Homo sapiens: one gene and its partners. The protein of the gene in region 3 binds, or shares a complex with, the protein of the main gene of each other region. Each region holds a gene or a part of one and is shown on either strand. Other genes may lie near its edges. The genes, in order: BUD13, SNRPB and CRIPT.

Evidence for each region.
Region 1: CRIPT (region 3) and BUD13 share a complex: the UniProt entries of both Homo sapiens proteins name them as parts of the minor spliceosome.
Region 2: CRIPT (region 3) and SNRPB share a complex: the UniProt entries of both Homo sapiens proteins name them as parts of the minor spliceosome.

Annotation. Positions count from the first base shown.
Region 1 is NC_000011.10:116,748,837-116,752,489, forward strand, and holds part of BUD13 (BUD13 homolog), read right to left. Parts: intron 1-3,653. UniProt on the Homo sapiens protein: Involved in pre-mRNA splicing as component of the activated spliceosome. As a component of the minor spliceosome, involved in the splicing of U12-type introns in pre-mRNAs.
Region 2 is NC_000020.11:2,464,313-2,467,789, forward strand, and holds part of SNRPB (small nuclear ribonucleoprotein-associated proteins B and B'), read right to left. Parts: intron 3,447-3,477; coding exon 3,295-3,446; intron 1,508-3,294; coding exon 1,396-1,507; intron 1-1,395. UniProt on the Homo sapiens protein: Plays a role in pre-mRNA splicing as a core component of the spliceosomal U1, U2, U4 and U5 small nuclear ribonucleoproteins (snRNPs), the building blocks of the spliceosome.
Region 3 is NC_000002.12:46,627,111-46,630,725, reverse strand, and holds the end of CRIPT (cysteine-rich PDZ-binding protein), read right to left. Parts: 3' UTR 550-3,615; downstream 1-549. UniProt on the Homo sapiens protein: As a component of the minor spliceosome, involved in the splicing of U12-type introns in pre-mRNAs. Involved in the cytoskeletal anchoring of DLG4 in excitatory synapses.

The DNA of each region.
Region 1 (3,653 bases), on a different chromosome or scaffold from region 3:
TTAGCCAGGTGCAGTGGCAGGTGCCTGTAATCCAGCTATTCGGGAGGCTGACGCAGGAGAATCGCTTGAACCTGGACAGCAGAGGTTGCAGTGAGCGGAGATCGTGCCACTGCACTCCAGCCTGGGTGACAGAGACTCTGTCTCAAAAAAAAAAAAAAAAAAAAAGAAAGAAAGAAACAAAAAAGAAAAGAAAATATTTAAGGCATATGCAATAGAATCAAAGGGACAAAATATATCATTCATCCTTTTCTTAGTCCTTGTTCACACCCTTCCCCCACTCTGACAGCTATTTCAAACGTTTGCCACTCTAAAAGCCTGGTTCTCTCTCAGCTGATGTCCACATCTTATATTTTATCCATTCATTACACAAACATTTATTGAATTTTCATTATATACTAGGTACCATGGTAGACACTACATGAAAATGAGTATGACACAGCACCTGTCCTGATGAACTCCCAGACTAGTGGAAGAGAGAGACATTTAAACAAATAAATTAAAAGAACAGCATAAACTCTGGTAGAAATACGCATGGGGTGTCATGGAAACAGAATGGGTATCTTAATCAGCTTGGGGGAGGTATGATAAAAAGGTGACATGAGGGTTGGGCAAGAATGATCAGTAAAGGCTCTGTGTTAACTACAGCACTGGGGATGGAAGGGCCAGAAAGGGTCTGGAGGTCATTTCAGAACAGAATGAGCAACAAGAACAAAGGCACGGAAATAAGAAGTGGCCTGGTATGTGCAGCAAACCAAAGGCAAACTGGTATGGCTGGAACCTGAAGTATGACAAAGGGAACAGCCATGAGTCAAAGTTGGAAAGGCGCAGAGGCCAATGCATAATGAGCTGCGTAGGCCATGGTAAAAAGCTTAGATTTCATCCAGAAACGATGGGTTTAAAGCAAGAACTTAAACTGCATTTCAAAGAGATCACTCTGGAGGGGATCTGGGGCAGGAAAATCACTGCAATGGTCCAGGCAACAGATGATGAAGGCAATGATAAAGAGGGACGGAAGAGAGAAGACACAGGAGGCAAAATTAGTAAGACTAATTAGCAGCACTAATTGATTAGGTACACAAGGACAAAGAAGGAGGAGGCAAGTTAGAGAGCACAAGAGTAGGAGCAGGCTTACAGTAGAAGCTGATGAGTTCAGCTTTGAATACAATGCATTTGAAATCTCTCAAGTCTAAATCAATAGAGAAATCCAACAAACAGCTAAATACACCAGACCAAGATGCAAATACTGATTTGGAAATCATGTACATATAGGTCATAGTTGAAAACATGACTAGGTAAGAATCAGCCAGAGGGAGCACATAGAGTGAGAACAGCTAAAAATTATGGATGGAGCCCTGGGAAAGACTTAAGAGGTGCACAGAGGAAGAGGAGTTTGCAAAGGTGGCCAAGAATGATCAGAGAAAAGAACCAGGAGTAGGGTGTCATGGAAAACAATACAGGGGTGAATTTCAAGGAGGTAGTGAGTGGACCTCAAATCCCTTTAATTACCATGCATTCTCTTGGTCTTCTTATCTAAACTTCTTAAAAAGCCTGTATTCACTATTTGTTTCCTCACTTTTCATTCACTCCTTAATACATTAGAACCTGGCCATTGTTTCACTACACAACGGAACTAGCCCTTTCAGGTCATCACTGACATTCCTTGTTGCCAAATCCAATGACTCCTCCTTCCTCTTCCCCAAATCAGCAAACAGGTCCCACCAGCTCACCCCTGACCACATCCCCACTTCCTATTCTCTTACTAACCATCCTTACTACCACTGCCTGCAAGTCGTAGTTCAGACACTCATTACTTTCAGCCTGAGCTACTGCAAAAGCCTTGTATCTGTTCTACTTCCAATCTTGTACCTTTCAAATCCTTCATATTACTGCTATAATGGATTTGTCTATCTAAAATGCAGAGCTGTTTTTAATCCTTCCGTGTCTCCCCTTTACCTCTAGGGTGAAGACCAAGCTCCTCAGATAGGCTTCCAGGGCCTTCTGTGATCACGGTCTGCCAACCTCTCTCATCCATCTCACGCTTTATGCTATCCAACAACAGCAAATTACTTAGGGACCCCCACCACCTGGTAACACCATGGTGTCTCATAGCCTTATGACTCTGCACATATAGGACCCTCTTCCTTTAATATCCTTCCTTTCCTTCTTATCTTGGCTGGTTACCAACATCCCTTAAAACTCAGCTCCCACATTTCATCCGTTAGGAAGCACTTCCTGATCACTCACATCCTCCTAAGGCTCAACTTACTCTTCCTTTGTGCTCCCAAAACATCTTGAAAATCTTCTATAGTAACACTAACCAAACAGCGTTGAAACTGTCTGTCTTCTATTCTAGATTGAAAGTGAGCTCCTGGGCTCAGGGGCTATCTCTCTTTAATCATGGAATCCCTAGTACCTACTACCTAGCTGCTTACACTTATAACATGTATGCTAAGACTTTCCCTTAAGGGATGAGTGGAGTGAGTAACAGAGGGCTTTAAGAAGGGAAGCTTGGCCGGACATGGTGGCTCACGCCTGTAATCCCAGCACTTTGGGAGGCCGAGGCAGGTGAATCACCTGAGATGAGAAGTTCGAGACCAGCCTGGCCAACATGGTGAAACCCTGTCTCTACTAAAAATACAAAAATTAGCTGGGCGTGGTGCTCACGCCTGTAATCCCAGCTACTCGGGAGGCTGAGGCAAGAGAATTGCTTGAACCTAGGAGGCGGAGGTTCCAGTGAGCCAAGATCGTGCCATTTTGCACTCCAGCCTGAGCAACAAGAGCGAAATTCCGTCTCAAAAAAAAAAGAAGGGAAGCTTATTATAAATGGCATCCTCTCCAACCTTAGAAGCATGGATGGTATTCCAAAGCACCAAGGAAACCACTGTTTTTTACCTTGGAAATAAGGTCTTAAGAGAGTTACACTAATATGATAATACAAAGGACATATGAATAACAAACACCAAATCCTAAGCAGAATCAGAAAACAAATTGCAGGAGAACTCACAGTGGAAAGAGCTTTGGACCAGAGAATCAGGAACGCAGAGTTCTAATTCCAGCTTTCTCAGGGAAATTGCATGACTCTAGGCAAACTGCTTATTTATTGGGCCTCAGTTTCTCTTTTTTTTGAGACGGAGTCTTGCTCTGTTGCCCAGGCTGGAGTGCAGTGGCACGATCTCGGCTCACTGCAAGCTCCGCTTCCCGGGTTCACGCCATTCTCCTGCCTCAGCCTTCCGAGCAGCTGGGACTACAGGCGCCCGCCACCACGCCCAGCTAATTTTTTGTATTTTTTTTAGTAGAGACGAGGTTTCACCATGTTAGCCAGGATGGTCTCAATCTCCTGACCTCGTGATCTGCCCGCCTCGGCCTCCCAAAGTGCTGAGATTATAGGCATGAGCCACCGCACCCGGCCCCGTTTCTCTTTCAATTAAGAGAGGCTGGGTAATTATCTTATGGGTTTTTCCAACAGATACTATATATCTGTTCCGGAAATATTCCCTTGCAGCAGGCCGAAAAGAGACAAAACTAGAAAAGATGATGAAAGATGAATAACAAAAAGAAAGCAAGGGTGACAAAGGGAAATAAGAGAAGAAATCTAGGATAAAATCAGAACAAGAAGTGGAAAAAAGCAACTGAGAAAAATGAAGACAAATTAA
Region 2 (3,477 bases), on a different chromosome or scaffold from region 3:
GACATGGTTATGGTACAACTGGTTGTGATCACAAAGGTTTATGATGGGTTATGTTAGACCAGCCAATTCTACTGGAAGTAGGTACTAAGAGATTTGAATATGTACATGGACTTTGAACCAAGATATGCTAACATCCCTTGCAGACATTTTTAACTGGAAAAGGCAAAAACGTAAAAATCTCCAAAAAAGAAAATGATTAGGATAAACTACTCTGTACTCATTTGAGAAAATCTCAGTCATTAACTTGACTTTAAAAGTGTTGAGCAACTAGAAAAATGTTAACATTAAGTGAAAACACAGAACAACATAATATATGCCCACTATGTGTTAAGTACAAAAAAATCCAGATAATATATGTGGATTTTTAAAAAGTTAAAAGGATTATTCTCTTTTGATTAAAATAACGTCTTGGCAGGGCGTGGTGGCTCACATCTGTAATCCCCGCTACTCGGGAGGCTGAGGCAGGAGAATCACTTGAACCCGGGAGGCAGAGGTTGCAATAAGCCAAGATCGTGCCACTGCACTCCAGCCTGGCGACAGAGCGAGACTCCATCTAAAAATCTAAAAAAAAAAAAAAAAAAAACCCTTCAAATGAAAAAGGGAAAGGGAAAACAAATTTGACTAGGTCTCTAAAGCCTGCTCTATTTCTATGTGTAGCTTGGTGTTTACAGAATCAAGACTGTCTGAGATCAAATGTCAGTTTCACCACTTAGTGGCTGTGGCACCTTGGGCAAGTTACTAAGCCCTGGTTTATTCTATTTATAAGATGAGAATTTATCTCTAAAGAGACCTAAAGGATCAAATAAAATACTGAAGTGGTTGGCGCAAGGTAGATTCTCAGTAACTATGAACTGTAACTGTACAAAACAAAATACACACATTTCCTATTGTTTCGGAGTTACAACTTTTTAAGGTCTACCTAGGCTTTGTCGTCACATTAAGAACTGACCCAGATGGCTTCAGGTGCTTCCTCCACTGACTCACTATGTACATCAACTGAGAAACAGGTAGAGCTTTAAAGTCTGAGATACCCAAATTCTAGTTCCCCTTTTCCACTTCTTTCTTGCAGGGTAACCTCTTTTTTTTTTTTTTGTCTTTTTTTTTTTCTTCCTTTTTCTGGAGAATGGGGTCTCGCTATATTGCCCAGGCAGGTCTCGAACTCCTGGGCTCAAGCTATCCTCCCGCCTCTTGCCTCCCTGAGAGCTGGGATTACAGATGTGAGCCACCGCGCCCGGCCTCTTGCAGGGTAACCTCTTTAAGATTTCATTTATTATCTGAAAAAGGGGGCAAAATCCAGAGGATGCCTGTGAGAACTGCAATGAAACAGAATCTAACACAGAGCCTGGCTCACAGTAGGGCCTCCCCTCCTCCACAAGGCTTCCTGCTCTGACTTACATCTTTGGGAGGAGGTCCCTCTACTGTCATTGAGACCAGATTCTCCCCTCGCAGCAGCACCAGACCGAGGACTCGCTTCTCTTCCCTTTCTGCTTGTTTGGAGTTCTTTGGCCTAAAGAGAGGTTTAGAAGGAACAAAAAAAGTGTTAGAGGTGGGTAAAGTTCACCTGCCTAGTGGCCTCCAAGATTTGCTTATACTGCATCTCCTAACAAACAGTACACAAACTTTCCCAAGATAGCCCTCCTGGATAGTCTCTACAGGCTGAACACATAACCTCTTAGGTGGCTATCTACCTGTTTCCTACCATGCCAAGAGGACACACTGACCAAGAGATAGGACAAGGTCAACAAAGCCCAGCCCGGGCCCAAATGCTATTCCACAGCAACCGTGAAGGCCCTTCCCTCAGCCAAGTCTTCTTTCTTAGGACCCTATTCCCTCCCTTCAGCTTAAGGTCTTGCCAACATCAGGAGGCTGCCTAAACAATTCCAATCAAATGACTCCCACCCACCTCACTTACGTGCAGTGTCCTTCTAATATCAATTCAACCTCACAGGCCTATAATTCTGCCCCTCATCTTACATCAGAAATAGGAGAAGCCATAGAAGGAAAAGGTTAAGAGAAATTTCACATACACAGAAATTGAAATTTCATATCTGTTCCTCAAAAGCATAAAAACAGAAACCCCCAAAAAGCAACAACCAGAAAAAGATGAACAAAATATAAATGTGAAGTAGGAAAAATAACTGCAACAGGATAGGAAAGTGGGGAAAAAAGCTAAAGCTAGATCCTAAAAATAAAGGGGAAAAAATAGCCTGATTTAAAAAAAGAACTCAAAAGATTTTGTTTTGATATTTTACAGTATATTAACTGGTTGTCTGTGGATGGACAGTTTTTCCCTTTTTTGGCTCACATTTTCTTATTTTTTAAAATAATAACCATGTATTGTCCTTTCATAATTAGAAAAAAACCCTTCGGGGTATTTTAGTTTCTATTCATAGACTTCTTTGTATTTTCAAAAATATTTTCCAATAAACATTTTTTATAATCAGGAGGGAACTTTGGAGTAGCTCCACGCTCATCTGTTGGCCCCTCTCTAATACGTACCTGGCACCAAGGCATCCCTACCACATTTTTAAACTATACTTCTTGACCTTGGGTCACAGAAGAAATCAGCCCCAAGGAGAATCAAAGGGAATTCAAAGTGAGTGACAGAATAATATGGACACTGCATATGACAAAAGAGCTGCTGGCCACGGAAGTCACATCATCTTTTTGTGCCTCAAGTAGCCTTGAATGTAAAACATGATGGGAAGCTAAATCATATCTTTTAATGGGCCAAAAGCTTAAGATCTGTGAGACTCAAGGCAAGGGAGTTAGCCAATAACTTACGGAATTGTAGCAAAGTAGACAATATCTCCAATTGTTTGTATAAATGCCAACAAAAATCACTGGCCCCAAACCCACATGGGGAGCTGAGCACTTACCCTGAAGAGGGTCAGAGGCTTCTTAAAGCAGTTTCAGACCAGGCTGCATTGGGAGAGCCCTTTAGGCTACAGCTTTACAAATAGGCAATGAGGCCAGAAACTCAAGCTCTCCCCCCTCACACACCTGTGGGGAGAACATGAGAGCCCTTTACCCCAGTACCCAGGGGCACGCAAAGTGAGAGAAACAAAAAGCCTAGCAGCCCTTCACAACTTGTACTTTGCTAGACTAGAGAGCAAGGTTTGCTGGACTCAAAAAGATTTCTTAGCGTTCAATGTCCCCATTTAAGTCTGCCCTCTAAAACTGGAGAATAAACAGAGAAGAACCAACTAGCTACATCACCACCTCTATTGCTTGGCCCACCCACTCAATCCATTCCCATCCTCCAGTCTCCGCCCCCCACAGTCCACTCCTCACTTGATCTTTCTGAACTCATCACAGTCACAGAGGATCAAATTCATGTGCTTGTCAAAAGCCTTGAAGGTGCCAATGAAGATCCGGCCGTCCTGCAGGATGCACCTCATCCTGTAATCAATATGCTGCAGCATCTTGCTGCTCTTGCCCACCGTCTGCAAGGAGAAATGGACAGGGATGAGACTC
Region 3 (3,615 bases):
AATTAACATCCTTGTAATGGGACAACTGACACCATGATACGGTGCACTGAAAAGAACAATGCCATTTCTGTGGTATCCCCGCCAAAAATGTATAAGCTCAGTCTAATCATCAAGAAATACCAGAAAAACCCAGATTAAGAGTTACTCTATAAAAAGTCTACGGGTTGGGAACAATAGACACTGAGGACTACTAGAGGAGGGAGGGAGGGAAGGTGCAAGGGTTGGAAAACTACCTATTGGGTACTATGCTCACTACCTGGGTGTCGGGATCAATGGTGCCCCAAACCTCAGCATCACGCAATATACCCATGTAACAAACTTGCACATATACTCCCTGAGTCTAAAATAAAAGTTGAAATTAAAAAAAAAAATACAACTGGCCCATAACCTTGGCATTTTGAAAGACTGGCTGAAGAACTGCTCCAGAATAAATGAGACTACAGACATGACAACTAAATGTAATGTTACTCCAGAGTGGATCCAGATCAGACTTTTTTTTTTTTTTGCATATTACTGAAACAATTAGCAAAATATGAAAAAGATTTGATAATAGTAAAGTATTAATGTTAATTTTCTGATTTTGGTAATTGTGCTATGGCTATGCAGGAAAACACCCTTGTTCTTTGGAAATACAAACTTAAGTAATTGGGGTAAAGAGGCACCACATCTAGTAAGGAATATTCAAATGGCTCAGAAAAAAGTACTTACTCGAAGTTGATGATAAAGGGAAACCTCTTCCTTACAGTAGAATGATGACTAATTAATACAGAAATAATAATAGAGTTAGAACAATCACAATTTTGGAAACATCCTAGTAAAAATTTATTCAGACAAGAATCGTCAAAGGATGCTAAACCTAGGAGGGGTAGATTTGATGAGGAACAGAATTGTCAACAAGGTCTCAAAGTTTCTCCTCACAAATTACCCACTAATTGCAAAAGGAAAAACAATAACGATACACTGGAGAAACTGGACATCTTACCCAAGTGATCAAAATTAGCATCACCAATAAGGGACAAATGGACATTCTGTGCATCTGGATGTATACCTGCAATACATATCACTTACAGCATTTCAACCCTCACTGCACTACCCCAATCTAACCATGAGGAAACATCAGAAAAACCCAAATAGAAGGATACTCTATCCTTTAGCTGTCCTGTATTTTTCAAATATATTACTATTATAAAAAACAAAGAAAAGCTGAGGAACTGCTCCAGATTAGAGGGTTATGGCAATACAACATATGATCCTAGGCTGGATCGTGGAGCTGAAAAAAATTACCAATAAAACAGCAAATGAAATTGAAATATGGACTGTAAAGTATTATGGCAATGTTAAATTTCTGAACTTGATAGCTGTACTTGGGTAAGACAGCATGCTTGTTCTTATGAAGTGCATGTGTAGTGTTAAAGGGTAAAGAGTATGATGTCTACAATATACTTTCTAATGGGTCGAGGATTCTAGGATACACACCCCCAGTTAAGGGAACTGGGAGTTAAAAGGTATTCGAAGGCTGCCATAAGGATGTAAAGAGTTAAGTCTCTACCCTTACACCCACTCCAGAGAAAAACAGTACTATTAGCTTCCTGTGTTTTCCACATGGATACAAAAACTTTTGCACACATATGTAATTCTTCTATCATTCTGACAGCTATATATTCTAATGGATGAATATATAAAATGTACTTAAGTGTTCTATTGGCATTTGTTTCTAGTATCTTTTATATTACAATCTGATATCTTAACAGATTCTTTCATCACTTTTACATTTATTTTGATAAAAGTTAGGTTTGGCTTTAATTCCTTGTTTTTAAACTTTTTTTCTGCATTTTTCAACTCTGGCTGTGGCATAAGGCCTTAATTCTGTCATCTTATTTGGTTATAGTGTCTGTTTGTATGTCTTCCTTTTAAAAATATTTTATGTTCATGTTTTGTTTTAGGGTTTTCCTCCTCATCTAGTAAATACTTCTATTCAATTTATGACCATCATTATTATTATTTAGAGAATATGGAGATGGTTCTGAGGTACAATACAACAAAAATCTTCATAGGAGAACCTAAGTGCGGCCACTGGATGATCCATTCATGGAAGGAGGCTACTCAAAGTATGAAGATAAAATGTGAGCTGGACAAGAACTACAAAACACGCTGAAAGAAATCAGAGATGACACAAACAAATGGAAAAACATTCCAAGCTCATGAGCTAGAAGAATCAATATCATTAAAATGGCCATACTGCCCAAAGCAATCCACAGATTCAATGCTATTCCTATCAAACTACAAACATCATTTTTCACAGAATTAGAAAAATCCTGCCGGGTCCAGTGGCTCACGCCTGTAATCCCAGCACTTTGGGAGGCTGAGGCGGGTGGATCACAACGTCAGGAGTTCAAGACCAGCCTGGCTAAGATGATGAAACCCCATCTCTACTAAAATTACATAAATTAGCTGGGCATGGTTGGCGGGCTCCTGTAATCCCAGCTATTTGGGAGGCTGAGGCAGGAGAATTGCTTGAACTCAGGAGGCAGAGGTTGCAGTGAGCTGAGATTGCACAGCTGCACTCAGAGCCTGGGAGACACAGCAAGACTCCGTCTCAAAAAAAAAAAAAAAGAAAAAATCCATTCTAAAATTCATATGGAACCAAAAAATCAATCCTAAGCAAATAAAACAAAGCTGAGGTATCACATTACCTGAGTTAAACTATACTATAAGGAAGCTACAGTAACCAAAACAGCATGGTACAGATATAAAAACAGACCCATAGACCAATGGAATGGAACAGACAGAAATAAAGCTACACACCTACAGCCATCTGACCTTTGACAAAGTTAACAAAAATAAGCAACAGAGAAAGGATTCCCTAATTCAATAAATGGTGCTGGAACAGCTGTCTAGCCATATGCAGAAGACTCAAACTGGACCCCTTTCACCATATATATAAAATTACCTCAAGATAGATTAAAGATTTAAATATAAGGGGCCGGGTGCAGTGGCTCATGCCTGTAATCCCAGCACTTTGGGAGACTGAGGTGGGTGGATCACTTGAGGCTCGGAATTCAAGACCAGCCTGGCCAACATGGTAAAACCCCATTCCTACTAAAAATAGAAAAATTAGCCAGGCGTGGTGGCATGTGCCTGTAATCCCAGTTAGGTTGGGAGGCTGAGGCATGAGAATCGCTTGAGCCTGGGAGGTGGAGGTTGTGGTGAGCCAAGATTGTACCACTGTACTCCAGCCTGGGCAACAGAAGGAGACTCTGTCTTTGGGGAAAAAAAAAAAAAAAGATTTAAATGTAAGACTTCAAGCTATAAGAGTCCTAGAAGAAAACCTACGAAATAACATCTGGACATCAGCTATGGGAAAGAACTTACGGCTAAGTCCTCAAAAGCAATTGCAACAAAAACAAAAATTGACAAGTGGAACCTAATCAAACTAAAGAGCTTCTGCACCGCAAAAGGAACTATCAATACAGTAAACAGACAACCTACAGAATGGGAGAGAATATTCACAAACTGTGCATCTGAAAAAGGTCTAATGTCCAAAATCTATAAGGAACTAAAACAATTCAGAAAACGAAAACCAAGTAACTCGTGGCCAGGTGTGGTGGCTCACTC